Homo sapiens: one gene and its partners. The protein of the gene in region 1 purifies or fractionates together with the protein of each later gene. This does not show direct contact. Each region holds a gene or a part of one and is shown in the gene's direction. Other genes may lie near its edges. The genes, in order: CST7, GALC, POTEE and ITIH3.

What was found.
Region 2: the proteins of CST7 (region 1) and GALC purify together in Homo sapiens (affinity purification with mass spectrometry; 2 studies listed by BioGRID and IntAct, with this or other methods). This does not show direct contact.
Region 3: the proteins of CST7 (region 1) and POTEE purify together in Homo sapiens (affinity purification with mass spectrometry; 2 studies listed by BioGRID and IntAct, with this or other methods). This does not show direct contact.
Region 4: the proteins of CST7 (region 1) and ITIH3 purify together in Homo sapiens (affinity purification with mass spectrometry; 2 studies listed by BioGRID and IntAct, with this or other methods). This does not show direct contact.

What each region holds. Positions count from the first base shown.
Region 1 is NC_000020.11:24,944,134-24,952,307, forward strand, and holds the start of CST7 (cystatin-F precursor), read left to right. Parts: upstream 1-5,135; 5' UTR 5,136-5,372; coding exon 5,373-5,442; intron 5,443-8,174. UniProt on the Homo sapiens protein: Inhibits papain and cathepsin L but with affinities lower than other cystatins. May play a role in immune regulation through inhibition of a unique target in the hematopoietic system.
Region 2 is NC_000014.9:87,982,885-87,990,323, reverse strand, and holds part of GALC (galactocerebrosidase isoform a precursor), read left to right. Parts: intron 1-1,800; coding exon 1,801-1,869; intron 1,870-2,116; coding exon 2,117-2,180; intron 2,181-3,251; exon of another isoform or gene 3,252-3,355; intron 3,356-3,721; coding exon 3,722-3,835; intron 3,836-5,790; coding exon 5,791-5,930; intron 5,931-7,439. UniProt on the Homo sapiens protein: Hydrolyzes the galactose ester bonds of glycolipids such as galactosylceramide and galactosylsphingosine.
Region 3 is NC_000002.12:131,226,485-131,233,923, forward strand, and holds part of POTEE (POTE ankyrin domain family member E), read left to right. Parts: intron 1-338; coding exon 339-445; intron 446-1,759; coding exon 1,760-1,897; intron 1,898-4,351; coding exon 4,352-4,422; intron 4,423-7,439.
Region 4 is NC_000003.12:52,790,204-52,797,935, forward strand, and holds the start of ITIH3 (inter-alpha-trypsin inhibitor heavy chain H3 isoform 4 preproprotein), read left to right. Parts: upstream 1-4,592; 5' UTR 4,593-4,600; coding exon 4,601-4,693; intron 4,694-5,399; coding exon 5,400-5,420; intron 5,421-6,277; coding exon 6,278-6,444; intron 6,445-6,535; coding exon 6,536-6,640; intron 6,641-6,901; coding exon 6,902-7,064; intron 7,065-7,613; coding exon 7,614-7,727; intron 7,728-7,732. Other genes in the region: ITIH1 (inter-alpha-trypsin inhibitor heavy chain H1 isoform a preproprotein), read left to right, coding at 546-718, 1,314-1,425, 1,579-1,708. UniProt on the Homo sapiens protein: May act as a carrier of hyaluronan in serum or as a binding protein between hyaluronan and other matrix protein, including those on cell surfaces in tissues to regulate the localization, synthesis and degradation of hyaluronan which are essential to cells undergoing biological processes.

The sequences.
Region 1 (8,174 bases):
ATACACAAGTATCATAGCCAAATCAATCAAGTGGAAGAAAGGATATCAGAAATTGAGGATCAACTTAATGAAATAAAGCAAGAAGACAAGATGAGAGCAAAAGGAATGAAAAGGAATAAACAAAGCCTCCAAGAAATATGGGACTATGTGAAAAGACCAAATCTACATTTGATTGGTGTACCTGAAAGTGACAGGGAGAATGGAACCAAGCTGGAAAACACTCTTCAGGATATTATCCAGGATAACTGCCCCAACCTAGCAAGACAGGCCAACATTCAAATTCAGGAAATATAGACAACACCACAAAGATACTCCTTGAGAACAGCAGCCCCAAGACACATAATCATCAGATTCACCAAGCTTGAAATGAAGGAAAAATGTTAAGGGCAGCCAGAGAGAAAGGTTGGGTTACCCACAAAGGAAAACCCATCAGACTAACAGCAGATCTCTCTGCAGAAACCCTACAAGCCAGAAGACAGTGGGGGCCAATATTCAACATTCTTAAAGAAAAGAATTTTCAACCCAGAATTGCATATCCAGCCAAACTAAGCTTCATAAGTGAAGGAGAAATAAAATCCTTTACAGACAAGCAAATGCTGGGAGATTTTGTCACCACCAGGCCTGCCTTACAAGAGCTCCTGAAGGAAGCACTAAACATGGAAAGGAACAGCTGGTACCAGCCACTGCAAAAACATATCAAATTGTAAAGACCATTGACACGATGAAGAAACTGCATCAACTCATGGGCAAAATAACCAGCTAGCATCATAATGACAAGATCAAAATCATAATAATAATATTAACCATAAATGTAAATGGGCTAAATGCCCCAATTAAAAGACACAGACTGGCAAATTGAATGGAGTCAAGACTCATTGGTGTGCTGTGTTCAGGAGACCCATCTCACATGCGAAGACACAAATAGGCTCAAAATAAATACATGGAGGAATATTTACCAAGCAAATGGAAACCAAAAACAAAGCAAGGGTTGCAATCCTAGTCTCTGATAAAACAGACTTCAAACCAACAAAGATCAAAAACGACAAAGAAGGGTATTACATAATGGTAAAGGTATTAATTCAACAAGAAGAACTAACTATCCTAAATATACATGCACCCAATACAGAAGCACCTACATTCATAAAGCAAGTTCTTAGAGACCTACAAAGAGACCTACACTCCCACACAATAATAATGGGAGATTTTAACACCCTGTCAATATTATAACAATGAGACAGAAAATTAATAAGGATATTCAGGATTTGAACTAAGCTCTGGACCATGCAGACCTAATAGACATCTACAGAACTCTCCACCCCAAATCAACAGAATATACATTCTTCTCAGCATCTCATTGCACTTATTCTAAAATTGACCACATAATTGGAAGTAAAACACTCCTCAGCAAATACTAAAGAATGGAAGTCATAACAAACAGTCTCTCAGACCACAGTGCAATCAAATTAGAACTCAGGATTAAGAAACTCACTCAAACCTGAACAACTACATGGAAACTGAACAACCTGCTCCTGAATGACTACTGCGTACATAATGAAATTAAGGCAGAAATAAAGATGTTCTCTGAAACCAATCAGAACAAAGACACAATGTACCAGAATCTCTAGGACACATTTATAGCAGTGTGTAGAGGGAAATTTATAGCACTAAATGCCCACAAGAGAAAGCAGGAAAGATCTAAAATTGACACCCTAACATCACAAGTAAAAGAACTAAAGAAGCATGAGCAAACAAATTCAAAAGCTAGCAGAAGACAAGAAATAACTAAGATCAGAGCAGAACTGAAAGTGATAGAGACATGAAAAACCTTTCAAAAAATCAATGAATCAAGGAGCTGGTGTTTTGAAGAGATCAACAAAATAGATAGACCACTAGCAAGACTAATAAAGAAGAAAAGAGAGAAGAATCAAATAGATGCAATAAAAAATGATAAAGGGGATATCACCAGTGATCCCATAGAAATACAAACTACCATCAGAGAATACTGTAAATGCCTCTAAACTAATAAACTAGAAAATCTAGAAGAAATGGGTAAATTCCTGGACACACACACCCTCCCAAGTCTAAACCAGGAAGAAGTCGAATCCCTGAATCGATCAATAACAAGTTCTGAAATTGAGGCAGTAATTAATAGCCTACCAACCAAAAAAAAGTCCAGGACCAGATGGATTCACAGCTGAATTCTACCAGAGGTACAAAGAGGCGCTGCTACCATTCCTTCTGAAACTATTCCAAACAAGAGAAAAAGAGGGAATCCTCCCTAACTCATTTTATGAGGCCAGCATCATCCTAATACCAAAACCTGGCAGAAACACAACAAAAAGAAAATTTCAGGCCAATATCCCTGATGTCCCATCAATGTGAAAATCCTCAATAAAATATGGCAAACTGAATCCAGCAGCACATCAAAACTTATCCACCATGATCAAGTCAGCTTCATACCTGGAATGCAAGGCTGGTTCAACATATGCAAATCAATAAACGTAATCCAGCATATAAACAGAACCAATGAGAAAAACCACATGATTATCTTAATAGATGCAGAAAAGGCCTTCAACAAAATTCAACACCCCTTCATGCTAAAAACTCTGAATAAAGTAGGTTTTGATGAACTGTATCTTAAAATAATAAGAGCTATTTATGACAAACCCACAGCCAATATCATACTGAATGGACAAAAACTTGAAGCATTCCCTTTGAAAACTGGCACAAGACTAGGATGCCCTCTCTCACCACTCCTATTCAACATAGTGTTGGAAGTTCTGGCCAGGGCAATTAGGCAGGAGAAGGAAATAAAGAGTATTCAAATAGGAAAAGAGGGAGTCAAATTGTCTCTGTTTGCAGATGACATGACTGTATATTTAGAAAACCCCATCATCTCAGCCCAAAATCTCCACAAGCTGATAAGCAACTTCAGCAAAGTCTCAGGATACAAAATCAATGTGCAAAAATCACAAACATTCCTATACACCAATAATAGACAAACAGAGAGTGAAATTATAAGTGAACTCCCATTCACAATTGCTACAAAGAGAATAAAATACCTAGGAATACAACTTACAAGGGATGTGAAGGACCTCTTCAAGGAGAACTACAAACCACTGTTCAAGGAAATAAGAGAGGATACAAATAAATGGAAAAACATTCCATGCTCATGGATAGGAAGAATCAATGTTGTGAAAATGGCCATACTGCCCAAAGTAATTTATAGATTCAGTGATATCCCCCATCAAGCTATCATTGACTTTCTTCACAGAATTGGAAAAAACTACTTTAAAGTTCATAGGGAACCAAAAAAGAGCCTGCATAGCCAAGACAATCCTAAGCAAAAAGAACAAAGCTGGAGGCATCATGCTATCTGACTTCAAACCATACTACAAGCCTACAGTAACCAAAACAGCATGGTACTGGTACCAAAACAGATATATAGACCAATGGAACAGAACAGAAGCCCAGAAATAACACCACACATCAACAACCACCTGATCTTTGACAAACCTGACTAAAACAACCAATGGGGAAAGGATTCCCTATTTAATAAATGGTGTTGGGAAAACTGGCTAGCCATTTGCAGAAAACTGAAACTGGACCCCTTCCTTACACCTTATACAAAAATTAACTCAACATGGATTAAGGACTTAAGACCTAAAACCATAAAAACCCTAGAAGAAAACCTAGGCAGTACCATTCAGGACATAGGCATGGGCAAAGACTTCATGACTAAAACACCAAAAGGAATAGCAACAAAAGCCAAAATTGATAAATGGGACCTAATTAAACTAATGAACTTCCACACAGCAAAAGAAACTGTCATCAGAGTGAACAGGCAACCTACAGAATGGGAGAAAATTTTTGCAATATATCCATTTGACAAAGAGCTAATGTCGAGAATCTACAAGGAACTTAAACAATTGACAAGAAAAAAACAACCCCATCAAAAATTGGGTGAAGGATATGAACAGACACTAAAAAGAAGACATTTATGCAGCCAAGAAACATATGAAAAAACGCTCATCATCACTGGTCATTAGAGAAATGCAAATCAAAACCACAATGAGGTACCATCTCATGCCAGTTAGAATGGTGATCGTTAAAAAGTCAGGAAGCAACAGATGCTGGAGAGGATGTGGAGAAATAGGAACGCTTTTACACTGTTGGTGGGAGTGTAAATTAGTTCAACCATTGTGGAAGACAGTGTGGTGATTCCTCAAGGATCTAGAACCAGAAATACCATTTGACCCAGCAATTTCATTACTGGGTATATACTCAAAAATCATTCTACTATAAAGACACATGCACACGTATGTTTACTGCAGCACTAGTCACAATAGCAAAGACTTGGAACCAACCCAAATGCCCATCAATGGTAGACTGGATAAAGAAAATGTGGCACATATACACCATGGAATACTATGCAGCCATAAAAAAGATGAGTTCATGTCCTTTGCAGGGACATGGATGAAGCTGGAAACCATCATTCTCAGCAAACTAACACAAGAACAGAAAACCAAACACCGCATGTTCTCATTCATAGGTGGGAGTTGAACAATGAGAACACATGGACACAGGGAGGGGAACATCACACACCAAGGACTATCTGGGGATCCGGGGCCAGGGGAGGGATAGCATTTGGAGAAATACCTAATGTAGATGATGGGTTGATGGGTGCAGCAAACCACCATGGCACGTGTATACCTATGTAACAAACCTGCATGTTCTGCACATGTACCCCAGAACTTAAGTAATTAAAAGAAAAAGGAAAATCAAGTGATTTTGCTTTTGAAAATTCCTGCTAATGTTTTTCATGCAACATCTCTTTCGTGTGTGGCTCAGGGGTAGAACATTGCATCAGGATTTGCTCATGGGTCTCATGTCTCTTCCTCCTCCCCCAGCAAATGACGGCTGCTCGGAAACTTTTATAAAGGAAGCGGTTGCTTTGTGGCTGATAGATCTGAAGGTGAAGAGCTTCTGGCCAAAATGATTCAGCAGCAAAACACTCCCCTCCCCAGCACCACGCAGGCAGCCCCCTAGCCCCGCCCCTGCCCCATCCCACAGTGGTTTGCAGGGTGGGGTTCCATGCTGTGGCCCTGGCACCTGCCCCTGGGCTGGGACAGCCCACTGTTCCATGCTGCCCAAGAAGGCTCAGCACAGGCACAAACCATTGCCCGGCACTGGCCCGTGCTGCCTGAGAAGGATTGGCACGGGCACAGACCACTGCCCCCACCTGCCCTGCGCCATCTACCCAAGAAGGCTCGGCACGGGCACCAACCACTGCCTCCAACTGCCCCATGCTGCCTGAGAAGGCACTGCACGGCCACCCCCAACTGCCCCGCACTGTCCCTACCCGGGCAGCCATGCGAGCGGCTGGAACTCTGCTGGCCTTCTGCTGCCTGGTCTTGAGCACCACTGGGGGCCCTTCCCCAGGTAAGTGGCGTTCTCCCCTGTCCGCTCCCCGGGGGTCTCTCCCTGAGATTGGCCACTGGTGCCTTGGGTCTTCCCCAGGGCACTTTCCTAGCTTGGAGCCCCCACAGGACCATGCGGTGGTGAGAGGTGCTGGGAGTGGTGAGAGGGGCAAGGGGCTCCATCTGGCTGCAGCTACCTTTGGGGGTAGCAGGCTACAGGGATGAAGGGTTTGGGGGCTGCCCCAGAAGGCTAGGGGCAAGGGAAGCATCTTCTATTCTCTGGCTCTTCACAGAGGTCTGAGAAAGGTCTAAGTAAGGCAGGTCTCCCGCAGCTCCTCTGCGGGACGGAGGCGACAGGGCAGCCACATGCCTGTGGTTAGCCGCTTCTATCTGATGGCTTGTCATTCCTTCCTGCTGGCTGTTGTCCTGTGACTTGGCTCCAGGGACCCTAACGATCAGACTCTTTCACCCTTCCTGAAATCCACTCCCTGAGGGTCAGCACTCAGGGGGAGGGGGGACAGGGAGGAAAGAGCCACTGCCTGTGCACTGGGAAACTGAGACACAGCCAGGCTAGGTGATTTGCCCAAGTCACACAGCCAGGGACAACCTGCTCTCCCCCAAAGGGAACTGGGCCATGGCCTCCCTGGCACAGGAATCAGACCAGGATACTGATGGGGACTTGGGAGGCCCCCACCTCATTTAACCAACCAGGAAGCTGGCACCAGAGGGCTGAGGTGACCCGCTCAAGTCATATGACCCCCACCCAGCAGACAGGGACAGAAGGGGGCTGGAGCCTGGCCAAAGGGGCCCAGGTGGGGGCTGTGCAGCAGGACCACTGACAAGAGGATGGCTCCAGAGCACCCAAGGGGTTCTTGGAGGGTTCTCACCTCCTCCTGGTGAGTCAGGATACTGAGGACTCAGTGATGCTGGGGGACACTGTGTCGAGCTCCCAGGCCTGGCCTAGGGCGGACGCTGCGACTGAGCAGCCAAGGGGACACGGCAGGCTGGAGGAGGGGCCGGGGGCAGCTTCTGCTCTCACTGATGGGAACATGCCACCGCCACCAGCTCTGGGTAGTGCTCAGCGAACATGGAGCTGACCCATGGCTGGCAGAAGGCTGGGGACAGCATACCCGGCCCTGCCTCCCAGCTTGGGAGCCTTCTTAGCTCACGCAAGGAGCCCTCCACCTGCTTCCCAGCCTCACAGGGGCCTCTCCTCCTGGCCCTGTCCTGATGCAGTGCTGCCTGCCTGCTGCCATTCTGTGCCCTGCCCCTTCGTGTCTCCAAGGTCCAAGGGGGAAGCAGGGAAGAGAGGCAAGTTCACTCCAGAGAAGTGGCTCGTTCTCACACCTCAGAAAAGGCTCTCCTGGAGGGGACATGGAGCCAGCTGTCCTAGCGTGTCCTGGGATCTAATTAAACCTACTGACTGCTGAGGGGTTTCAGAGCTCTGCTCATCTCACGGAGCAGGCTAGGGACTATAACAGGGTGGCGTGGGAGCCGATGTGCTGGGCAGCTGGCAACGTCATTTTCCTGGGTGGTGTTCCCGGCCCCTCGCTGGTATGTAATGCTGCACCAAGCCTTTCCCTCCATTCTCAGCAGACCTGCTGTCAGCCACCAAACCCCAGAGAGAAGCTCCAGAGCCCACGTTCACACACACAGAGCGGGCCCTCAGCCTCAGTCCTACCATCCATGAAATGGGAAGATAACTGCACCCCGTCTCCGGCCCTGGGGAGGCTGAACAGAGGTGGCTCGGGGAAGGCACAGGCATGGAGGCACATGGGGCATGGGGTGCTCTCCGCCAGCCTCAGCCCCCTGCTCTGTCTAGTGCAGGCCCTTCTGCCACTGTGCTGGTGACAGCCCCCAGCACCCTGCCCAGGCGCTGTGATCATTTCTGGTGCTTCCAGCAAGGGCCTTCAGTCTTCGGCTGTATAGGGAGGGTGCTGGGAGGCCCCCAGTCTAGCAGCAAAAAAGAGATGGGAACCTGGGCCCCAGACACAAGCATGCGTCCTGCCCCCACTCCACAACTCCTACAGCCCCTCCGCTGCCTCCTCTGAGAATAAATTACAGAGCCTTCCTCATGACTGAGGGGGGTAGGGGGCGGGGAAGCAACAGGGACCCCAAGGGTGGTGCCGTCTGAGCATCTGGCCTCTCTCCACACCCATGCACTGAACTGCACAGACCATAGCGCTGAGCCCCTCAGGGCACCTCTCCTCCCTGAGGCTTTCAGAACCTAGGAAATTGCCACACTGGCTTCCGCCACCCTTTTGAAAAGGGCTGTTTCTTTCTCAATCTGATGGGCATCTCTTCTGGGAAGCTCTGCCAGGTGCCATGTCATCCTCTGCCCCCTCCACTCTAGCTGCAACGGCCCATCTGCCTGGACAGGGGCCCTGGGGTCAGGGAGCCATTTCAGCTTCCCTCTGCAAGGTGATGTCAGTCCTTACTTCCCAGTAGCAGAGAGACCACTTGCAGCCCGGGGACCTCCTGCCTCCTGGGGAGCACTGGGAGCTGCCGCAGGCTGAGCCACCGTCTACGTGGCAAGATTTGTTTTTCCCAATGGGGGCATTCATTTGCCCTGAGACCCCTGCTGTGGCCATGTGCATTTTGATATATTGATAATGATTACAGTTTTGCACATCATTTATTGACAAGTGCTTCGTGTATGTTGCCTCATATATTCTCACTGTCGTCAGCATCCTCATTTTACAGGTGAGGACACGGAGGCTCAGAGAGGTTAGGCAGCTTGCCTGAGATCATACA
Region 2 (7,439 bases), on another chromosome or scaffold:
GATACAAACTCCATTTGACTCAAAGACTCCTATTTATGTTGCCAGTACCAGTGCAACAAAAGACCCATAAAATATTTAATAAGTGTTTATTGAATAACAAAGAATGAGGATACAAACTTGAATAAGATACAGTCCATGTCCTTAAGGAACTAAGAGGTGAGTCAGAAAAATAAAGGAGTGCCGGGGTTCAAAGTGTTGTAATAAAGATATGGACCTGGTGCCAAAGGAGAGGCGCTTACATCAAATCAGTGAGCAGGGCCAGAAGGCATCCTTCCTTCAAATTCCAGAGGTGGAATTTGAGCTGAAAGGTGAATTGGAGTTGTCCAAGAGAGGATGTGGGGTGCATTCCAGGCATAAGAATAGAAAACGTTGTTTGATACATCTAGGTAGAAGGTGTGAGAGTGATAAGGGATAAAGTATCAGGGTTAGGAGCCAAATAATTAAGGGATTTGGGTGCAAAATTGAGCGATTTGAACTTTATCCTGAAAGCTTTTGGGAAAGGGACGGTCTTAGCATGTTTACATGGAAGAGTTTCGTGATTACATTTGTATTTTGGGAAGGTTACTCTCGTAAGTAGCATGGAAGATAGAATACAGGGAGAGGCAGAAGGGATGTCCTGAGACCACTTATACTGTTCTCATAAGTGAGGAGGGCCTGGGTAAGTCAGTGGGGTTGAAGAGTAGAGGAGGGATTTGAGAGCTATTGAGGATATCTTGGTGACTGAGGGTACATGGGAAGTTTGGACAAAAGGTGGCCCAAGTTTATGGTTTCGGCAAGTGTTGGTTACTGAGACAGCAAGTTCAGGAAAAGGAGCAGATACATGCAAAAGTGCTATGTTTGGTTTGGGATATATTGAGGTAGATGGAAAGAGTGGCTAGAGAGCAGCTCCATGGGTGTTTGCCTCACTGGTAGGGACTGGGGATGTTTTGGGTGTGACAGAGTAGATATGGGCACTTACCAGAATGTCAGTGGTAGCATATATGAGAATATAAAATAGAAAGTTGAACCCCATAAAAGTATTTTGTCCCAACCATCATACATACACCTGGCAAAGTGTCAGCAGTTTGAACCTAGGACTGTCTGGTTTACAAGCCTGAGGCTACTGTTTCATGCCAAAAACCGGCCTCTTTTTATTTATTTTTTGCTTATATTGCCTCCCAAAGGATAGATTATGGGTCAGTTACTGGTTTTGTGATTTCTTTTTTCAAATAGTTGTATGCCGTGGTCCAGGCATGATCCAGTATTGGTCCCTGCGCTGTCTACCCTTGTCTTTCCATGCATTCTGATGCCACTCTTGTGTTAAGTTTTCTTAGTACAGCCTGGTCTGGAGATTATTGCTAGTTATTCTTAATAGTAACAGGTAGAATTTATGAGGATGGGGAAAGTAGTGCTTCCTTTCAGCATTGCTGCTTGTGATGTTTTTCCGGAAGATGTTAAGGGGAAAAATTACCTGACATTCATCCCTCCCATTTTAGTCCTGAGATATTGTTGTCAAGTGGTCTCAAGATAGAAAACCTGAGTTTCAAGATAAGTTTGTGATCATGAGGTTAGCAAGCTTACCTCCCAGTTAGCCCTCATGCCAGAAGAAGAGAACTTTTTTAGCTGTCGGACAGACAGCAGCCCTACTTGCCCAATGATTGGCACAGAAAGGGCAGACAGACAACTTGTGAGGAACTTTTCCTCAGCCTGACCTTGCCTGAGGCTAAATATGTGTATACCAGGTGGTGTGCGTGAACACTGTAGACAGATATTCATGACTGGATTTCTTTTATTCATACTTTTGAAAACTTTTTTTTTTAGGCAACCTCCCGACTTCTAGTAAATTACCCAGAGCCCTATCGTTCTCAGATATTGGATTATCTCTTTAAGGTAATGAAAACATAATTATTTCATGGTACCTGTGATATTTTAGAAATTGGATGGTGAATTTCACCATAGAATTTATTAGCCTCACAATTCTAGTTTTTGAAAAAATGGCACATTACTTTTGGAATAAATTGCTATTTGAAGTTTTGCTTTTGTTTTTGCGTCTGTAAAACCTAAGGCAGTAATTAGTAATTGTCTTGAAGCTTCATACAATACAACACTATGTTAATACTGTTACTTCTTTTCACAGCCGAATTTTGGTGCCTCTTTGCATATTTTAAAAGTGGAAATAGGTGGTGATGGGCAGACAACAGGTAGGAGAATTTGGGAGATAGGATTTCTCCCATCAACATTTTAATCTATACCTCAGCATATGGACTGTGATTTCAGAATATGTGTAAACAATACCAACACTTTTGAGATTGATTGTTGCTTATTAGAGTTTTCCTCATTTTTTAACTGTAATTATTTAAAAATATTATATAGAATATGACTGGTCCATCAAAAACAATATTCAAACTTCAAATTGCTTATTTAGTTGAAGTAATCGGTAGTAAACAAATCCACAGTTTTCTAAAACCTATATATACAGGACAGAGCATAGGGACAGTTTTGAATTTTATTGAGCAGTTAGAAAGATTTTAATTTCGTATAGAACAAAAAAAGTGTTATTAACTTAAAATATGTGGTAAAAATGATACAGCTTTTTTTTCTTTTAAAAACAAAACTTATCTTTAATCACTAAATCTTCAGTCTTCATTGTCACTATTTTGATTGGCTTTATGTAGTCCATGTTATCAACTGGCAGTTTATAGGCCTTTTGTTTCCAGGAAGAAGAAAAGAAATTCTCTCTATGATTAGATATAGCTTATTATTTACAGAACAGATTCCATTATAATGAACTCTAGAGTATTACTTGTATTCCTGCTAGTGATTTGGAAGTAACTCTTTGTTGAACAGATATGTCTATGTGGTGGTATTAGTGTTTATGTTGAAGAAAAAGTGCAAAGCAAAAACAAAAGAAACCCCCATAACAGAAACTTTCTTCAAGCTATTGCGTTTTACTGTTAAAACCTTTTAGGCAGAATTGACAATGATGGACTAATTTCACTTGCTGAAGCTAAATTAGAGGTAGAGGTACATAAACAGGCAGTTCTTGTGAATTCTGATGTTTACCTTTAAGAAGAAATGGGCAAGGGCCTCTCGGAAGGCCCTACTTAGCAAGGGCAGATGTTGGTGAACTGTGGGAATATACGAGGACTTTGATAGCAATTACCTACCTCAGTGCTAAGACAATGTAACCTCTACTAACTGCAGATGTTAGTATAGAATTTTGTTATTTTTAGAGTGGATATGTATACTCATTCCTTTTTTTTTCCTCAAAACTCTTCCTATATCAAGACATATTATAGGCTAAAGGTGTGGGTTCTGAGAACAGGGCTCACGAGTCCAGGGATTCATATCCAGCGTTGAAAAGCTGAAAGTTGAGGTAATCAGAACTTAAAGTTGGACATGGGGATTTGAAAACTACAGAGAGATCAAAAGCCCAGAAGCATGAATACTGGGAATTTTTAGTTATATGAGGTGATAACATTTCTCTCAGTACTGCTTGTAATAGAAGGTTGTGGTTTTATTAAGACTTTTACAATGCTTAAGATAATAAAAAAAGGATGAAATGATATGCTTTTATCATCCATCCTTTAGTTGTGTAAGATTATGATTTCCCCAACTTCAGGATTAGAACTGGAATACTGCTTTTGTGAAGTGTGTGTCTGGGGTGGGGGTGGGGAGTGAGATGGTCCTAGGAAGTACCATTCATGGATCATTACTTCCGTTTTTGCTCTCCTCTATTCAGACGGCACTGAGCCCTCCCACATGCATTATGCACTAGATGAGAATTATTTCCGAGGATACGAGTGGTGGTTGATGAAAGAAGCTAAGAAGAGGAATCCCAATATTACACTCATTGGTAAGAAATGAAGTTTGCAATGTTTCTTCAGTCTCTTTTCCTTTAACTTTTAAATTCTGAATCGTGTTGGTGGAATCTCTATTAATACGGAAGTACTCATAATGTCATTAATGCTACCAGTATGCTACCAGCAGCAAAGCATGTGCCAGGGGTGATCCTTTCTTTGCCCTTGTATATTATGTTGAATCCTTATAATACCTGTGGAGTAAGGCATGACTCTTTCCATTTTCCAGGAAGAAGCAGTAGAAGCTTAGGAAGATTATGCCACTGACCTAAGGTCATAGACAGTTAGTAAATGGCAAAATCGGTGTTAGCACCTAATTCCATGTTTCCTATGATGCTAAACTACTTTCCTTCACAAGATCTGTCATCAGTATTTATAAAAGGGTAACACTGTTCACAAAAATGTATATTACATGCAGTAGTACACCTAACTAGTTACAAAATTGTATATTGCATGTAGTAGTGAACCCTATTTTTAGAAAAGGTACATACAAAAGTGTTTTTTGTTTATTAGTTAGTTTTTGAACTTCAATAATGTGCTGGTTACTGTTCTGGGACTCAGGAAGCCAATCCCGTCCCCAATTCCTGCACCTGTGGGGCTTAGGTTCTATTGGGAGGATCATTGGCTAGTTGCTTAAATGGGACTATGTACATTTCACAGTTCTGTGAGAATGTGTACAGAGCTTGTGAAGTATTTCAAACATCAAGAGTGATGGGATACTTTCATCATTTGAAATGAATTTGATTTTTTGAAACAGGCTTAAATTCAAACTAAGTTAAATGAAATTAATGATTCATTTTAAAGACCTGATTTCTAGTTATTTAAAAAATAATTTTCTCAACAATCAGGTTAATGAAAAGTAATATTTTCTAAGTTAAAAGAAATTAGGAGTAAGTATGTTCTTTATAAATGGGCTTTTGTAAGAGATTCCAGAAATGCTGTGAGCAGTAAAAGCATCACTGAATTCAGCACATATCCACTAGACTGCTTCCAAGGTCAGACCTCATTTAAATGTAGAAAATATGGCATGCTAAACCATGTCCTAACAAAGACTTGGTAGGCCTTCAGATTGCATTTAGCATTTCATTGTTTTCAAGAATTCTATTACTTTAATGTCACATTTCTTATGTAATACACTTGGGTGTTCCTCCTGAGTTTAGAAAATAAGCATTTTGTCATTTTGATTTTTATTTTTTTCAGTGGTGAACTAGTTTGGTAATATATTTATTGCTGAGGAACTTAACTATTGAGCCTATTTTAATATATTAGTAGCAAGTTAAATTTAGAATTATAATAAGTACTTTTCTACTCTTCTTATTTTTTTACTTAAACATAATCAGGATTATTGGAAGAATATGGACTTATTTGATGTGTATCACTTAACAAGGGTATATTTCTCTATGGAGTCATTGTCATTTATAGTGATATAAGAACAAACTAGTTTTGCTAAATTAGATTGCCTGACTGATTAATATTTTAAGGACCCTAAATTGTAAGAAGATGTACAATTGAATGATAAATTTGTGTTATACATAACTCAAGAGTAGTTTGGCATAAGCCTTTTAGAATTCTTTGATTTGACCTCAAAGAACAGAAGTTGAATATTGAACATTCCAACAGTGAGTGGACATGTTAAGTTAAAACATATGGTACATTTCTTTCTATTGGTAAGGGTCTTGGAGAGAGGTGTTTGTATTTGTTATTTTTCTTCTTCTTGGAAAGAACATTTGAAATTATGGGACCTGACTCTAGGGATCAATAAGGAATTATAGTGTCTATAGATTGGAAAGGATTTCAATAATTTTTATATGGTATATAAACTTTCCTTTAGTCAGATCTGTATTGGTTTTTTGCTAGTTGAATGCTTTTCTTAAAAAAAATTTGTTTTATTTTCAATAGCGCCAGCACCGTTATACCTCCTCTACCTTTGCCTCCTCCCTTCTCTCTGCAGGGTTGCCATGGTCATTCCCTGGATGGCTGGGAAAAGGTTTCGACTGGCCTTATGTCAATCTTCAGCTGACTGCCTATTATGTCGTGACCTGGATTGTGGGCGCCAAGCGTTACCATGATTTGGACATTGATTATATTGGAGTTAGTAATATATTTAAAATATGATTCAGTTTTGGACATTTGTTTGTAATTTAGAAAATAATTTGATTCTGTGGTACTTTTTGACTAACCATTTTATGCCATGAGGCTAATTTGTTCTAATGGTGTCTGATAATAACACAAACTAAGTACCTGTGACCTTTAATTGCTCCCCTTTGCCCATCCCAGTGTTCCCACTTTTGAAAACTGTGTTGAGTGTATACCTCCTTCCTCTGAGCTGGGTTTTTTTTTTTTTTTTTTGTATCAACCCAACTCAAATTCTCCTTCAAAGCTTTCCCTGCTTTCTCTGGTTCCTACAACAGTGTTGTGTTTCCTATACAGCTTATGGGGGGTTAGTCTCATTTTATCCTCTTGTTGTCTTAAGCCAAAGATTGGCAAACTTTTTATTAAAGGGCCAGAGCATAAATAGTTTTGGGTTTGTGGGCCAAAAGGCAATATTGAGGATCTTGAGGTAAATATATAGCCATTTAAAATGTAACTATTTAAAACTAAAAACACTTTTAGCTCTCAAGTTGTAAAATTACAGATGATGGGCCAGATTTGGCAGGCTGGCTGAAATCTGCGTTCACCTGTCACAAACTGTTAGTTAACACCTTTTAAGGATTTGAAAAGTATGAAAAATGATATCATGTCCAGCTTGTCTCTTGGCTGGGTGGAGGCATGCCCCAGGCTGCATCGTACCCCACAGGGCCTTAACACACACATAGTGGGTCTCCATAATCATTTGCTTATTAATATACCATCAGTTAAAACTAATACTTAAACATTTTCATGCAATCATGACTTAGATTATCAGCAAACAATTATTGAGTTCCTACTGTGTTGCAGGAACTGTGACTGTAATATTTGAGGGCTACTAAGATTAATAAGCTCTTGTGTTCAGTAAGAGAAGTAGATGCTGGAACATATAAACTGTAATACTACATGATGATACAGGGCATGAGGATGAGCCAAGGGCTGGAGGAAGTCAGAAGAAAGAATATACTAGTTTTTGCTATCCTTTTCCAAATTATGACTGAAAAATTAGTTTATATTTGAGAACTTTCCTTTTTTTTTTACACTGTCACCCGGATTGGAGTGCAGTGTTGTGATCTTGGCTCACTGCAACCTCTGCCTCCTGGGTTCAAGTGATTCTCCTGCCTCAAGTAGCTGGGATTACAGGCACCCGCCACCACACCCAGCTAGTTTTTTTTTCTTTTTATTAGAGACGGGGTTTCACTATGTTGGCCAGGCTGGTCTCAAACTCCTGACCTCGTGATCCGCCCGCCTCGGCCTCCCAAAGTGCTGGGATTACAGGAATGAGCCACCACGCCTGGCCGGAGAACTTTCTTAAATGTCAGGACATTTATAACCTGTAGTGAGACTAAATGTAGGTTTGGTCTAATAGCTTTCTCTTATGGTACAGTCACAAGTAATGGGTGATTCACATCTTGTTTAGACTCATGATAACAAATGCTATGATGAGGAGGTTCATTGATAAACTCTTTCCTG
Region 3 (7,439 bases), on another chromosome or scaffold:
CCCCTGCCCTCAAGAAGCTTTTTGTTTAGATGGGAAAAATATTATCATCCAATAACACCATGCCAAATGCTGGTTTAGAAGCAAAGAGCCTTGGAAGCAGTAAATGTTTAAAGTGAGTTTTTGAGATGATTAGAGTTACTGTGGTGAGGCAGAGAAGGGGTGTTTCCAAGGGAAGGAGCAGCGTGTGGGAAAGCACAGAAGAGTGAGAAGGAAGCGAGTACATTTTATTTACTTTCTATGCGTGTAAGTCCATAAGATCTTACATAAAGTTTCCACTTTGGTTGAGGAATATGTACTTTTTTGAATTACATAGGTTTTTGCTTTATATTGTTTTACAGCATGGCCTCACACCACTGTTACTTGGTGTACATGAGCAAAAACAGCAAGTCGTGAAATTTTTAATCAAGAAAAAAGCGAATTTAAATGCACTGGATAGATATGGAAGGTATAGTTCTTTCTTTTAATCTGTGTGTTCTAGATGGACAGCAGTCACTCAAGTCATAAATATTAAATTAATAAGATTAATGTATACTTACTGGGATGTAGTGATCAGTATCAACACAAATCAGTTAGGTAGAAAAACAATTACTTGGGCTGGGCAACATAAAGAACAGTTTTAGTAGGATTCATCTTCTCTTATTATATTGACTGATGTTATTTGTTATGTGACATTTTTGGTTACATGATCTTATGTTAGCTTAAAGGATTTCATATTAATTTTATGAAGTTTGAACTTTAACTTTTAGTTTACTTTATGACTCAGTATTGAACTTCTTAACCCTTTCTAATAGTTTTTAACCTGTGTCTTACATGCTTTTCCATTAAATCTGCTGTATTAAACATAAATAGGGGTTGAAAATCCTTTTGTCTTTTTAATGACTTTGCTTTAAGTTGCTTTCTTTGAAGAATATTAGTGTTAGCTTATCCCTACATGACAATTAATTGCTGTTCCCACATACTGTGGGTTCAACAGCTTTTTTCCTTTTGTTTTTCCAGTGTGTTTTGATGTTTTTATTTTTAATTGGTATGGAGAGAGGGAGTGAAGATAGTTTTAAGTGGATACACTTTTCCTTTAATGAAGACAAGCCGTACGTGGGTGATAAAGAGAAAAGAGCTAGGCTTTGGATTCACACAAGACTGGGTTTAATTAGTAACTTTCTTACTTGCTAGGTGTGTGACCTTGGGGACGTTATTTACCACCAAATATGTTGTCATATATGAAAAGTAGGAGAATATATCCTTCAAAGTTGGCTGTGCATAAGTAAGAAAGATACATGTGGCATTTAATTCAGTGCCTAGCACATGGTTATTGGCACCATTAACTGAAACTCCTATGACTACTATTCTTACCATTATTATTACTGCTTTGAGCATGCAGAGAGCTCTTATTTCTCTTACCCCCTAGCTGATTTTCTATTACAGCATGTCAGTCTAGGGAAGCTGTGACAAAATCTTCACTTAAATCTTTGTCCACCTCAGATAAGTGGCCCTAACATTGTTTCTTGCCCATCAAAGGACTTTAAATTAGTAGCTTCTGCTATGCAATACCCCACTGAGATAAGAGGGTTTTTTTTGGTCCCTTCCTTTTAACCTTGGTGGCATTTTACAAAGATGAACACTTGAGCACTCAAGATGCTTATGTCTTTTAGTGCATGTAAATGTTTGATTCTGCACAGACAGGCAAGATGTTACATTGGTAAAGTATATCAAATTAGCTTTAAAAATAACTTTATTACAGTTCCTATCTCTGTCATTTTAGGACTGCTCTCATACTTGCTGTATGTTGTGGATCAGCAAGTATAGTCAGCCTTCTACTTGAGCAAAATATTGATGTATCTTCTCAAGATCTATCTGGACAGACGGCCAGAGAGTATGCTGTTTCTAGTCATCATCATGTGTAAGTGTTTACATTAAAAGGCTAGTTAATGCTGAATTGAGGTTTAAAATAATTATAACAGTTGCATCTCACATATCAGGTGAGATGTCATAGTTTGGTTCAGGTAGTTTTCGCGTGGCAGTGAGTTAGTCCCCTGCATCAGCCAGAAATCAGACAAAAAGCAAGACAAGTTAGAAGTACCAATGGGTGCGGGATTCTTTATCTCAGGACTTTTAAGATCTTTATCCTTAGAGATCCCAGCATTGTTCATTTGATCCAAGTGTAACACCTATGCAGGGATAAAAAATAGTGTCACATCTTTAATTTTTCTGATTAGTTATTTGGGTCTTGAAATGTCTAGTTTAGCGGAAAGTCTTGTACTGTCTTCTGGGGACTATGTCCTACATACTCCTTGAATTTTTCAAGAACCGAAGGAGTTCACTAAATCCAAGGAAGACAGTCCCTTTTATCAAGTCAGAAGGAGGAGGAAAAAAGACATTGCAATCATTCTGTTGTTTCCGTTGATTTTGTTGCTGCTTTGTGGCCACTCAAACTGGTCCTGCTGCCTTAAGATGAATCAGTAGATTCAGATCCCTCAAGTCTTCATGGCGATTCATACAGTGACTTTGATGTTTTTTAATTCCCATACCTATGCTTATATGCTCAGCCATTGTTCCCAGAGCACCAGCCCCCTGCTCTGGCCGCTGGGCATCTTGACTTTATCCGCACACAAAGTGACCAAATTGACCCTTCCCCACATATTCAGAACCTAATGTGGAACCCACATCTTAGCCAGGAATTAGCTGAGACCTTCATGGTAAGAGATCCTTTGAGGCTGTTGTTGGTCTTTTCTCTGGCAGATGTTAGGTGGGCTTGTTCTAAAGGGTGAGAGGGGTTCAAATAATGTGGCAGAAAGAGGTCAGTGTTTGTTTCCTCTTTGCTACCAGATCTGTACTGTGAGGCACCTTTATATCCTGTATAGAACCCAGTAGAAAGTCCCATATGAACCTTGCCCTGAGCAGTGGCTCCCAGCTGTGGTTGGCCCCTTGAGTGATCTGATTTACATGATAATGAAAATTGTCGGAGCTACTTCCATCTCTAGCTCAAGATTTTAAGATATTTTCAAACTCTAGCTCACAGGAAGCCATTGAAGAGAATTCTCAGAATCTCAAGTAGGTTAGTTGGACTTCACAGAGCCAAGCCTTGTCCATGACGCATCACTAATCATGTGTAAAAGTAGGGCTTTGTGCTTGCTTCGGCGGCACATATCCTAAAATTGGAACAATACGGGGAAAGTTAGCATGGCTTCTGCATAAGGAGGCAGCACAGATCTTTGAAGCATTCCATATTTTGTGCAGTCACTGGAAGGTCATTTGACTATTTGCTGACTAGCTCTGAGGAAATAGTGTGAATCAAAGCAAAATGGGTGCCACCCAAATATTGAAATTGTGATTTGTGCTGCAAAAATAGTCATGTAAGATGGTCTATGAGATGACTTAGACCTGAATAACATGTTCGGTGCAAAATATATTGTTAGTATGTATGTCGAAAATTACAGAATGTCAGCTTGCTACTTCTCTGTGGAAACTAAAAAAAAATAAAAGTAGACTTTTGGTCTCCCATGTCAGCTGGAATTGAACATCAATATAAAGCATTATCCTAACAGACATCTACTGGCTGAGAGTTTGAGTCTGTAGAGAAGGATCGTTGGTCCAAGTCAGGTCTTAACATCCATTGGTTTTTCTGCCCTTGGTGTGATTGATCAACTCCGTAATAGTGGACAATCACATTATCTACTTTAATGAGATATTTATGAATAAATTTAGTTACAAACTATGACATAGTTGAGATGCCCTGAATTATAAGCCATAAAGAGTAGGACAACTAAGAAGCAAAATTAGGACTTAATAACATTTTCTGAAAACTACAACATTTGTATATTAGAACCTATGAACAAAATATGCATTGGGTTTTATTTGGGATTCCAAGATAATTTTAGTCATAAAGTTTAGGAACAGATTATTCCATTGCTTTACTATTTCTCTGAGCATTTAAAAAATGTTATCTCGTTAAACCTTTATAACAACCTAGTGAAATAAGGCAGCAAAGTCCTCACTTTGTTGAAGAAGACATTGAGCCTAAGAGAAGCAAGTTGTCCAAGAACAAATAGCTGTTCATTATGGAGCTAGGACTTATTTAGAGTTGGGACACTTTCTATTATGTCATGCTAATGCTAGCTAATTTACTGGGTCACAGTGCCCTCGATTTATGACTATTTCACCTTACATTTTTTTCTTCTTTAATTAGAAGCTTAAAGAGAAGTTTGTAGAATGTATTCATAAGTGGATGGGATAATACTATTAAGTTCTGTTATTCTGATATTGTTTGAAATACTCTTAATAATTCTACATTTGGTAAGTTTTTTTTATATCAGTATTAAAATAGTAATTTGGTTTATTACATTTTTATACATAGAATTTGCCAGTTACTTTCTGACTACAAAGAAAAACAGATGCTAAAAATCTCTTCTGAAAACAGCAATCCAGGTAAGACTTGTGATAGTGAATTACTTTAGTCAGTTGTCCCCAACCTTTTTGACACCAGGGACCGGTTTTGTGGAAGACAATTTTTCCATGGGCTGGGGGAGGGTGGGGATGGTTTCAGGATTATTCAATCATGTTACATTTATTGTGCTACTTTATATTATTATCACATTGTAATATATAATGAAATAATTATACAACTTACCATAATGTAGAATCCGTGGAAGCTCTGAACTTATTTTTCTGCAACTGGATGGTCTCATCTGGGGGCAAAGTGAGACAGTGACAGATCATCAGGCATTAGATTCTCATACGAAGCACACAACCTAGATCCCTCAGATGGGCAGTTCACAACAGGGTTCATGCTCCAATGAGTATCTAGTGCTATCACTGATCTGACTGGAGGCAGAGTACAGGCGGTAATATGAGCCATAAGGAGTGGCTGTAAATACAGATGAAGCTTCCCTGGCTTGCCTGCTGCTCACCTCCTCCTGTGTGGTGTGGTTCATAATAGTCCATGGACTGGTATGAGTCTGTGGCCTGGGAGTTGAGGACCCCTGCTTTGCGTGGTCCTACCATAGATAAAAAAGTAAAAGTAAGGAATTTTTGATCACAAAAGAACACTGAAGCACAAGTCATGTTACATATGCTTGTCCCAATAAGGTCTCACTATTACTGACTTCATTCCTCCTCATTTGAAGTTGGAAAGAGATATATTTACTTTGTTGGAACAAGATGTGTTCTTCTACCTGCTGGTTAATTGTCATCATAACAGTAATTTTGTTAGAACAAGATGCTCTGCTACCATTTGCCAAAAGATTGTCATAATAAATATACAAATTGCCCAACTCTAGGCTCAGCAGATTATAATAAAAGCAGAAAAACGTTTCACACTAACAAAAACGCTAGTATGCTACCTGGTTGTGGACACCTAATACATTTATAGTCCAAACTGTATGAGGACACCTTTAATTTAGCCATCTATTTATCAAAGAGCTTTTGTAAGTTAGGTTTTATAAGTTGCAGGAGACAAAGATGGAATAGATGTAGTTTTGATCTTTAAGGTGCTCATAATAGAGCTGTCTCCATTTCATTTCTGTGGTTTTTCAACAGAATTTACAAAGAAAACATTTCTATTTATGTTTTCACTTGTCCACTTAACATATAACTATCAAATGTCTTTTAGATAGTAACCATTTTTCTAATGCTATAGACCACAAACAATTAAAAATACAGACAGGAGCTTTTTGTTATCATTGTCATTTTCATTATTTTACTACTTTATTCAGTGCTTACTGTGTGCTAGATGCCCACTGGAAGCTTATAATTATGATTTATTATATATTGATTATGTGCCAGACATATGTGATGAGGAATGAAAGTTTTGGGAAAAAGTAGGTATGATTTAAGGTAAGCATGCAGAGAGAGAAGAATTTTTCTAGGTAAAGAAGCAGAAGAAGAATGTTTGGCAGAAGGAACATGCAGCGAGGTCGTGTGTTTGCCAGAAGGAACATCTAATGAGATTGCCTGTTTGGGAGGAAGAGCAGCAAGTGCAAAAGACAAGATGCTTGAGTGAACATGGCAGGGTTTCTGAGCAGTTCACTTTTGCTAGTACCAAAAGTGTGTGATACGAGAGGTTGGGAATGAGGTGAATACTTAGCTAAGGCAAGTTTATGATAGACTTTTTAATACTATAGAAATGAGTAGGTCTTATCCTGTGTGCCATGGGAAATTTACCGGGTAGAATGCTTTGGACTGCAAATACTAGATGAACAGTGGCTAAAACAGTAGGAACCAGAGTTGTTTTGGTTGTTCATTGATATCCTAGGATCCCACTTTTCCCTCTTTCAGCTGTGCTGTTGACAGTGTTTTATTCACGTCTCCCTTCATGGTTGGCTAATCCGCAGCAGCTCCAAACATCTTGTTCTCACAACACAACATCGCAAGGGCTGCTTTTCTTCACATGTGTCTTTTAAACAGGGAGAAAACTTAGAAGCATGCAAAGGGCTTCCTGTAACATTTCACTGGCTGGGTCACACCACATGCTCATTCCCAAACCAGGCACTGGGAAGGTAAATACCTGATTAGCTTAGAATAATCATTTCTGTTTCTGAGGCTGAGGAGGGGGATTGGGATAATAAATATCCCAATAGACTTGGATTTCTTCTTCAAGAAAGAATAAGGAATGGCTATTGATAGGGAGCCAACAATGTGTGCTGCAGGGGCTCATTGGAGAAATTTGAGCAGGGGAGTCATAAGATTAAATCTGAGTATTAAGGCATTCTGGTTATGGTGTAAAACGGGTTAGCAAGCTTTTTCTGTAAATGGCCAGTTGGGCAATATTTTAGACTATGTGGTCTCTGTCATATCTACTTAACCCTGCTGTTGTCTGCTGTTGTAGTGTGAAAGCCACCATGATTATATGTAAGCAAACAGGCATGACTGAGCTCCTATAAAACTTTATTTACAAAACCATAATGCAGATTGGATTTGGCCTGTGGCCTATAGTTTGCTGGGATTGATGGAAGGTTCTTTACCCTGTAAAGAAACCAGGAGACAAAGGAAGTTTTCGCAGTAGTCAGTTATAGTTTCCTTGTCATACATCCTTGGAGTAGCATCAATGTATTACAAGGTTTTCACCCGTCCTTAGTGAAATACATAAAGTTAGGAATCTCAACTACTTGTTTTAATATGTTGGCCTTTTTTTTTTGGTGTTATGCTTTTTTCATTTGTTTTGCTTAATTTTTTTCATGTAAGAAATAACATTAATAGTTGGCAGGCTTTTTTTTAAATAAAAGCCATTTTGTAAATGTTTGTGTTCCCAGTGGCAGTGGGAATATAAAGCAGAGGCAGAAGAGCGGTATCGTCAATATGATTTAGTGATAATTGAATGAGAAAGGCTTGGGGGACAGAGAGAAATGTCAGATAATTTCCAGGTTTCCAGGTTGTACAGTAGTATTTAACCTGGATGTGAGGACGAAGGAGGAAATTTTCTGGTGAATACAGAAGAGCAAAGAGCA
Region 4 (7,732 bases), on another chromosome or scaffold:
GGGCTTCTCATTTGGCATGTCTTAGTCTGCATTGTCTCATGACTTTTCCTTCCTTTACTAATTCGTTCATTCATTCATTCATTCATTCAACAAACTGTGCCAAGCACCAGAGCAATGCTGGGCAGCAGAGCTATAGGAAGAGGTGGGGAGAGTCTGCTGTGGAGGTCACAGGTGATGAGTGGGAGTCACAGAACACGGACTCTGATATTAGACAGCCTGAAGTCCAAGTCCTGGCTCCACTGCTTACCAGCTGTGCTACCTTGGGCAAGTTACTTAACCTCTCTGAGCCTGGGACTTCACAGGCTCGGAGTGAGGATTGAATGATGCAGTTTGCACAGAGGGCTTAGCACAGGACCTGGCACATTGCAAGGGCCCCAAGCAACATGTGGGGAGGGGCGTGGAACAGGTAACAGCCGGCCATCTGGGGATGAAGGCCATGGGGTGGGGGCGTGGTCATAAGGGTTGGGTCCCAGATGACAAGGGCAGCTGAATGGAGAGGGATGCAGTGCAGCCGCACCTGCCCTCTCGGCCACCTGGCTCTGCAGGGTGGTGGTGACCATCAACAAGAAGAGGAACCTGGTGGTGTCTGTGGACGACGGTGGCACCTTTGAGGTTGTTTTGCACCGAGTGTGGAAGGGGAGCTCGGTCCACCAGGACTTCCTGGGCTTCTATGTGCTGGACAGTCATCGGATGTCAGCCCGGACGCACGGGCTGCTGGGTACGGCTGGCCAGGCTGGCAGGGCTGTGGGGAAGGGTGTTGAAGCCAGAGGACATGTGGGACCTGGGGCCACCGGTCAGTTCTATAGCTGGGCACCAGGACAGGCCCACCTCCAGTGTGGCCTCCAAGGAGCAGAGCCGTCTGAGGGGCTGTGTTGGTGAGGCTGTGAGCAAACACACAGTGAAACAAACGCTTAAGCGAGCCTGGGAGCAAGTGAGGGGCAGAGGTCTGATCGCAAAAAGAAAGGCCCAGAGGGTTCCCAGGAACCTTGTGAGTAGGGTGGGTCACTGACCACACTGCTCCTGTGTGGCCTTTCTACAGACACTGCTCTCTATGGGCACCTGCCCTCAAACCTCTCTCCCCAGACAGATCCCGTTTTAAAAGACAGGAGGTAGGACCACCTAGAAATGTATCTACTTCTCTATAGCAAGTGAACCAAAGGTAGCTTTTCATGCTGGGACTGTTAGCAGAAACAGTCAAGCCCTGGAAAAAAAGCGGTCCAGCAATGCTCTAACCCCGCAGTGAGCACCTGCTGAGTGCAGGGCAGGAGCAAGTCCCCGAGATGGTAACCGCTGTCTCCAATGTGCCTTTCTAGGGCAATTTTTCCACCCCATCGGTTTTGAAGTGTCTGACATCCACCCAGGCTCTGACCCCACAAAGCCAGATGCCACGATGGTGGTGAGGAACCGCCGGCTCACGGTCACCAGGTGGGTGGGCTGCTTGCCCAGCACGTCTGCCCTCGGCCACTTTGTAGTTCTTCCAGGTCTTCCTCCAGGTGTCACATGGGTGGGGTGAGCTTCCTGGGGAGGTGCTGCCCTACTGGTCCGAAGGGTGACCCCAGCTGACTTGTCTCTGCACAGGGGTTTGCAAAAAGACTACAGCAAGGACCCGTGGCATGGGGCCGAGGTGTCCTGCTGGTTCATTCACAACAATGGGGCTGGACTCATCGATGGTGCCTACACTGATTATATCGTCCCCGACATCTTCTGAGCCCTCTGGCCAGCACGCCTGTCCTCCCCCGGGGCCAAGGCAGAGGAGGAGGACGACATCCTGACCTGCTGCTGAGGCTGTACCTCCTTGACTAAGCTGGTTCCTTGTGTCAAAGCACCTCATGCCTTCCATTAAAGAGAGGCCGTGTCCACCCTGAGCTGGCTGATTTTGGGGAGGGAGGATGGCAGGGAGGCAGCCCAAGATGCTGCCCCTCAGATGGACTAAGGGGTTACAACAGACCCAGGGAGAGGAGAAGCAGGTCAGAGGCTGGGAAGAAAGCTCACACCATTTCCCTGCTGAGGGTTTGTAACGTCTGGCAGCCAGGCTGGTATTTTCCAAAGGCAGAGATGGTCCCTGCCCAGAAGCTGTGATTTCAGGGGGCCAGGAGTGGCACCCTACCATCTCCTCATGTGAATGCCTGGAATTACCCCATCAGGGTCCCCTCCCTTGGCTTGACCTTGGGGCCCAGTCAAAACACAATGTCACAGGTGCAGGGAGGTGAGCCACACGTCAGAGAGCTCTGTGTGTGAATGCGCACAGGCCTCCACCCACTGCTTTCCAGAGGCTTTCTGCTTTTTCTTGCTAGTTTCTGTCCAGTTTCCACTATAAATGAGGCTCACAAGGGACCAGACAGAACAAGGACTGGTTTTGAGGGCCTGGATCAATAACACCAATGCTGAGCTCAAAGGCTGCCCCAGGCCCTATGAACACAGAGCCCCTAGCGGCAGGCTGTGGGGCGGCCAGCCCACCTTCCCAGGTATCCTGGGGTTCTCCAGGAAGAGCTGTGAGCTGCCAGCTGTCGGGGTCACCCTTGGCAAGGCCTGCCCAATGGGGGCCTCATCTCCCTCTCCTGTAGAATGGAAAGGCGGTGAACCCAAAGATCTCTTAGATTCCGTCTAATTATAAAGTCTGCATGACGACTCTGGTTCCTCCAAGTCCCCAGCCATCCCTTGAGGCTGCTTGAGCAGCTACAGAATCCCTATTTCGAGTTGTCCGTCTCCCCAAACTCCAGGCACTTGGGGATGAGGCAGTGGTCCAGATGAGAGAGTACAGGAGAAGCTCTGCAGGCAGCTGCAGGTCCGTGAGGAGGAGCCATTGGGCAACAGTGCCAGCCACCCAGTGCCAGCAGCCACAGGACTGAAAACATCCCAGAAGCCAGGAAATGAGGACACGGCAGCTCTGAGGGGTCTTCTCTCCACACCCAGGCGCCAGCACCTGCTGGGTTTGGCCTCCATCAGGCCCGAGCTTGGTGCCTGCTGCCAGTGAGGTTGGTGTAAGGGTTCAGGAGGCCCGAGGGAAACAGGCACCGCCCAGCCAGACACCAAGCACAGGCAGCATCTGCCACTTGGCCATCATTTCACTGGCTTGGAAACTCCCTCTTTTCAATTTTTTTTTTTTTTTTTGAGACGGGGGTCTCGCCCTGTCATCCGGGCTGGAGCGCAGTGGCACGAACACAGCGCTCACTGCAGCCTCGAACTCCTGGGCCCAGGTGATCCTCCAGCTTCAGTCTCCCAAAAAGCTGGGATTACAGGCAAGAGCCATAGTGCCTGGCTGATTTGGCAACTCTCCATCATTGCTCTGTGGCTGCTGCCTCTTCCAGCCATTAGACCACACCCTCCTCAGGGCTTCCGCTGCCCCGTGGCATCTGCCTTTTGCCTTCTTGGTTCCTCTGCTCCCAACAACTCTCTCTGCACATCTCCCAGTCAGCACCAGAGCTTTCAGCTGAGGCCGCTGAACTCCCCATAAGTTAGTTGTCCTGGACCCAGCCGTCCTTGTCGACTCCATTCAGTAGTGGGCTGCCCAGTGGGAGGGTCACAGGGTCAGCTTGGCTCAGAGAAGCCATGGGTATGGTGGGTGTGCAACAGCTGCCCTGATGGGGCTAGGCTGGCAGGGTCCTGAGGTGGCTCAGGAGGTCCCAGCCCCCACTGAGACCAGGTCCTGCCTCTAAAGCTCCTGTTGTCCTGGAAGCTGGAGCCCAGCCTCACTACGACTTTTAGGGCAATGACTCCCCAAAAGGCTGAGGGCAGCCAAGTCCCTGGCTGGGCCCTGGAAGCACAGAGGGAAACATGACATGGTCCAGCCCCCAGGAGCTCTGGGTGCAGAGGGGGCAGGCAGACCTGAGCACATCCACCTCAACATAAGGTCATGACAAAGCAGGCCCTCAGGGGGCTTGGGGCTTGGAGCAGGGATGTCCCATAGTCCTCTAGGGGATGGCCAGGGAAGGGTCCTGGAGGGGAGGCACTGGGACTGGCAGAGAGATGAAAGATGTGACATGTGCAGAAGGGGAGGGTGTGCTGGTGCAAGAGAGTGAGCTCAGAAAAACAAGCTGGGGTCAGATCACAGAGACAGCTGGGCTTCCGGGATCGTTGTGTGTCCTTTCCCTGGGGCTTTGGGGGCCATAGAAGGGTAGTGAGCGAGGGGCTCTGCTGTGGAGGTCCCAGCCTGAAGGTGACAGTCTAGTTTCACGCCCTGGCTGCCTCAAGAAGGGAGGGGCTGCAATCCAGGAGGCCAGAGAGAGGCTGTCCCAGTGGTAGGGATAAGAGGCAACAATGCTGAGATGCCCTTTGCCCTAAATGCAACTCCACACCCCATCTCCATCATCCACGCCAGGGAGTCCCAGGGTCCATTTGTTGGCCCACAGCTTCTGCTTTCCTGCGGGCCTCTTCCGAGTCCCCCGGTCTCTCAGGAATGAAGCCCCAACGCTGTTGGCAAGACCCACCAGGCCTTCTTCAGACAGACACATCGAGGGACCCGTCATTCCACCCATGCCCAGCTTCCCGGAGGCCCTTCCTGCCTCCACTCCTCCCACCCCCGCTGCAGGTCACTGACCCTGCTTGGAAAACACCAGGCTTGCTCATATAAGGAGCGTGGGCCAGGCCTGAGTATTCAGCGATGGCATTTGCATGGTGGCCCTGTCTCATCTTGGCTCTGCTCTCCAGCTTGGCAGCCTCTGGCTTCCCGAGAAGCCCCTTTCGGCTGCTTGGGGTGAGTCTGCCCCCTCTTTGCCATCTGGGTCTTGGTGTGGAATGGGCAGAAGGCATCATGCTGGGCAAGGCCTCTGAGTGGAGTGAAGAGGAGGCAGAGGGCTGGGCACTGAGCTGCTGGGAGTAGTGTGGACACTGGGAGAACCGGGCTCCAGCTGAGGCCTATGCTAACCTGTTGTCTAACCCTGGGAAGGCTCTTAAAACTCCCTGGGCCTCAGCTTCCCCACCTGTCAAAAGAGCAATGCACCAGGAACTGCTCACTTCACTGAGGGGCAATGAAGGTTCAAGTCTCAAACGAGTGTGACCTCTACAAAATGCTCAGTTGAGCCCTGCGGGGTGTGGCGGGGGCAGGGGTGCTCTGGAAGGAGGCCTAAAGGGGCCTGGGGGCCAGGGAAAGGCAGAATGGGAGATAGAATGAGGTGGGGCATGTAGGGTGTGAAGAGAGCTCTGGGTTCAGTTCCCCCTGCCCTGCTCTCCTGGTAACCTGGATACCTGCCCCTCTCTGGACCTCAGTTTCCCCATCTATTCAGAGTTTTTCCTACTCTGACATGTGGCTCTGGAGGGTCCTATGTCTGGGGGCCACTCAGGTGTGTGGGGGGCAGGGCACCACTGAACCCCTGGTCTCAGCCCAGAGCCTCCCAGGCCATGCGGCCTTGGTGTTGGCCTTGGCCTGATTCCTGTGTTTGTGTTTGTTTTTGTTTTTTCAGAAACGGAGCCTCCCGGAAGGGGTAAGAACTTTCACCAGGGGGTGGGACCGAGTGGGGCAGGGCAGGATGGAGCTGGTTCCCCAACTGCTGAAGGTGTAGGCTATAACAGCTGACTCCTCACAGCTGGCAAACAGCTTACGGCCCTCTGCCCTGGCAGCCTCCAACAGCGCAGGACTCCTGGGAAAGAGCACCACAGAGTGACGACCCCTCCAACCTCGCAGGATGTAGCCCAAGAGGGCCCCTCACAGGCATCCCTTCCTTCCGCAGACACTTCCTTAGCACTTGCTGGTACCTGGCTCTGTGAAGCGGTCCCTGCCACACCCTCACGAAGCATCTTTATATCCCTAGGGGGAGGGGGCTGGAACACCTCCCTAGAGCCTCTCAAAATTCAACACCCCTATTGGAAAGAGGGTGTTTGGAGACTTCCCTTGGCACAGGAAATCAGTTCCTCTTTGGGAGACAGAATGAGGCAATTACCTAAAGACCCAGGAGGTGGGCTGGGCTGTGTGCTTGAGGGAGTGTGAGGTGTGGAGGATGAGCAGGAAGAGCCAGGGGCAGATGCTCCAGAGCCAGTGTCCCACGCATAGCTGGAGCTCAGGGTGACTGGACGGGAAAGGGCAAGCTCTCACTGGCTGCAGTGGTGTGTAAACGGATCGCAGAATTAAGGAGGCAGGACAAGCATCTGAATAATGGTGGCCACCAGAACATGGAGACTGGAGACGCCACCAAGTCTTCCAGTGTAGAAGACCTGGAGGATGAGGGTTGCGTGCCGGGCAGGGGCCTCAGAGCCTCCAAGGGTTTGCAAGGGAGGTGGCTGGGTTGCAAACCTGCTTCTCCAGTGTCCCAGTCTGGCTGATTCTCCACCCACCTCCCCAAAGGTGGCCAATGGCATCGAGGTCTACAGTACCAAAATCAACTCCAAGGTGACCTCCCGTTTTGCTCACAATGTTGTCACCATGAGAGCCGTCAACCGTGCAGACACGGCCAAGGAGGTTTCCTTTGATGTGGAGCTGCCCAAGACGGCCTTCATCACCAACTTCACCTTGTGGGTACCACCATGGCTGCTGGCTCTGGGCTCGGGAACAGGGGGTCTGGCCCAGTGTGATCTCCCTACCCCCAACTCTCTTTCCCTGCAGGACCATCGACGGTGTTACCTACCCTGGGAATGTCAAGGAGAAGGAAGTTGCCAAGAAGCAGTATGAAAAGGCTGTGTCCCAGGGCAAGACGGCCGGCTTGGTCAAGTAAGTATGGACTCCCAGGCCTTGGGGAGAATGTCTGGGATCCAAGGGCCTTCAGGGCTACAAACAACAACAACAGCTATTATTATTGGTATAGCAAAATGTGCCCATAATTTTGCCATTATCCCACGTTGAGGCTGAGGCAAGTGAGGCTCAGAATGGTTAGGGATCTCCCTCGCCAAAGGGCTGGGCCTGGGGCCGAGGGCCGAGGAAGGGTGGGCTCCTGCAGTCTTTGAGGGAGTCACCATCTCGCACCCTGGTCAGGGCCTCTGGGAGGAAGTTGGAGAAGTTCACAGTCTCGGTCAACGTGGCTGCAGGCAGCAAAGTCACCTTCGAGCTAACCTACGAGGAGCTGCTGAAGAGGCACAAGGGCAAGTACGAGATGTACCTCAAGGTCCAGCCTAAGCAACTGGTCAAACACTTTGAGGTAATCAACCGCCCCTGCAGACCTGGGGGGACGGCAGCGGGGTGCAGGAACCCGCCCATGGGGCAGTCTCAGACAGGGGTCAAAAACAAAAGTTCTGCCTCACGGCATCCCCCATCCTTGGCTGGGAAGGCTGGAGGAATTCAATGGTTCTGGCCAAAAGCATCTGGGGCCAAGGGGAAGAGGCTGGGATGGACTCCACAGATGCAGATTCGGTGCTGGGCCCTCAAGAGCAACACCAGCAAGTGCCTCTGTAAGGCTTCTCACTGGGCACATGGGCATTTTTCCTACCTCAAAGCTGAAAGCCAAAGGAAAAGCATCAGTGGTGGAATTTCGGGCGCATATGGCAGGCGGTGGTAACACCTCCCGATCAGCATACTCTCCTCCAAGCCCCTGTGGTCACTTTCGCAGTGGGAGACACCAGGCTTGGCCCTCAGCACTGTCCTAGAGGGTCCCTGCATCACCACAGACCCATCTCATTCCCATTGGCCTTGTTCTGGGAACTGGCCTCTGAGGTCACTGAGTGACATTTCCTTACTTTGGCCATTTCAGATCGAGGTAGACATCTTCGAGCCTCAGGGAATCAGCATGCTGGATGCTGAGGCCTCTTTCATCACCAACGACCTCCTGGGAAGCGCCCTCACCAAGTCCTTCTCAGGGAAAAAGGTGAT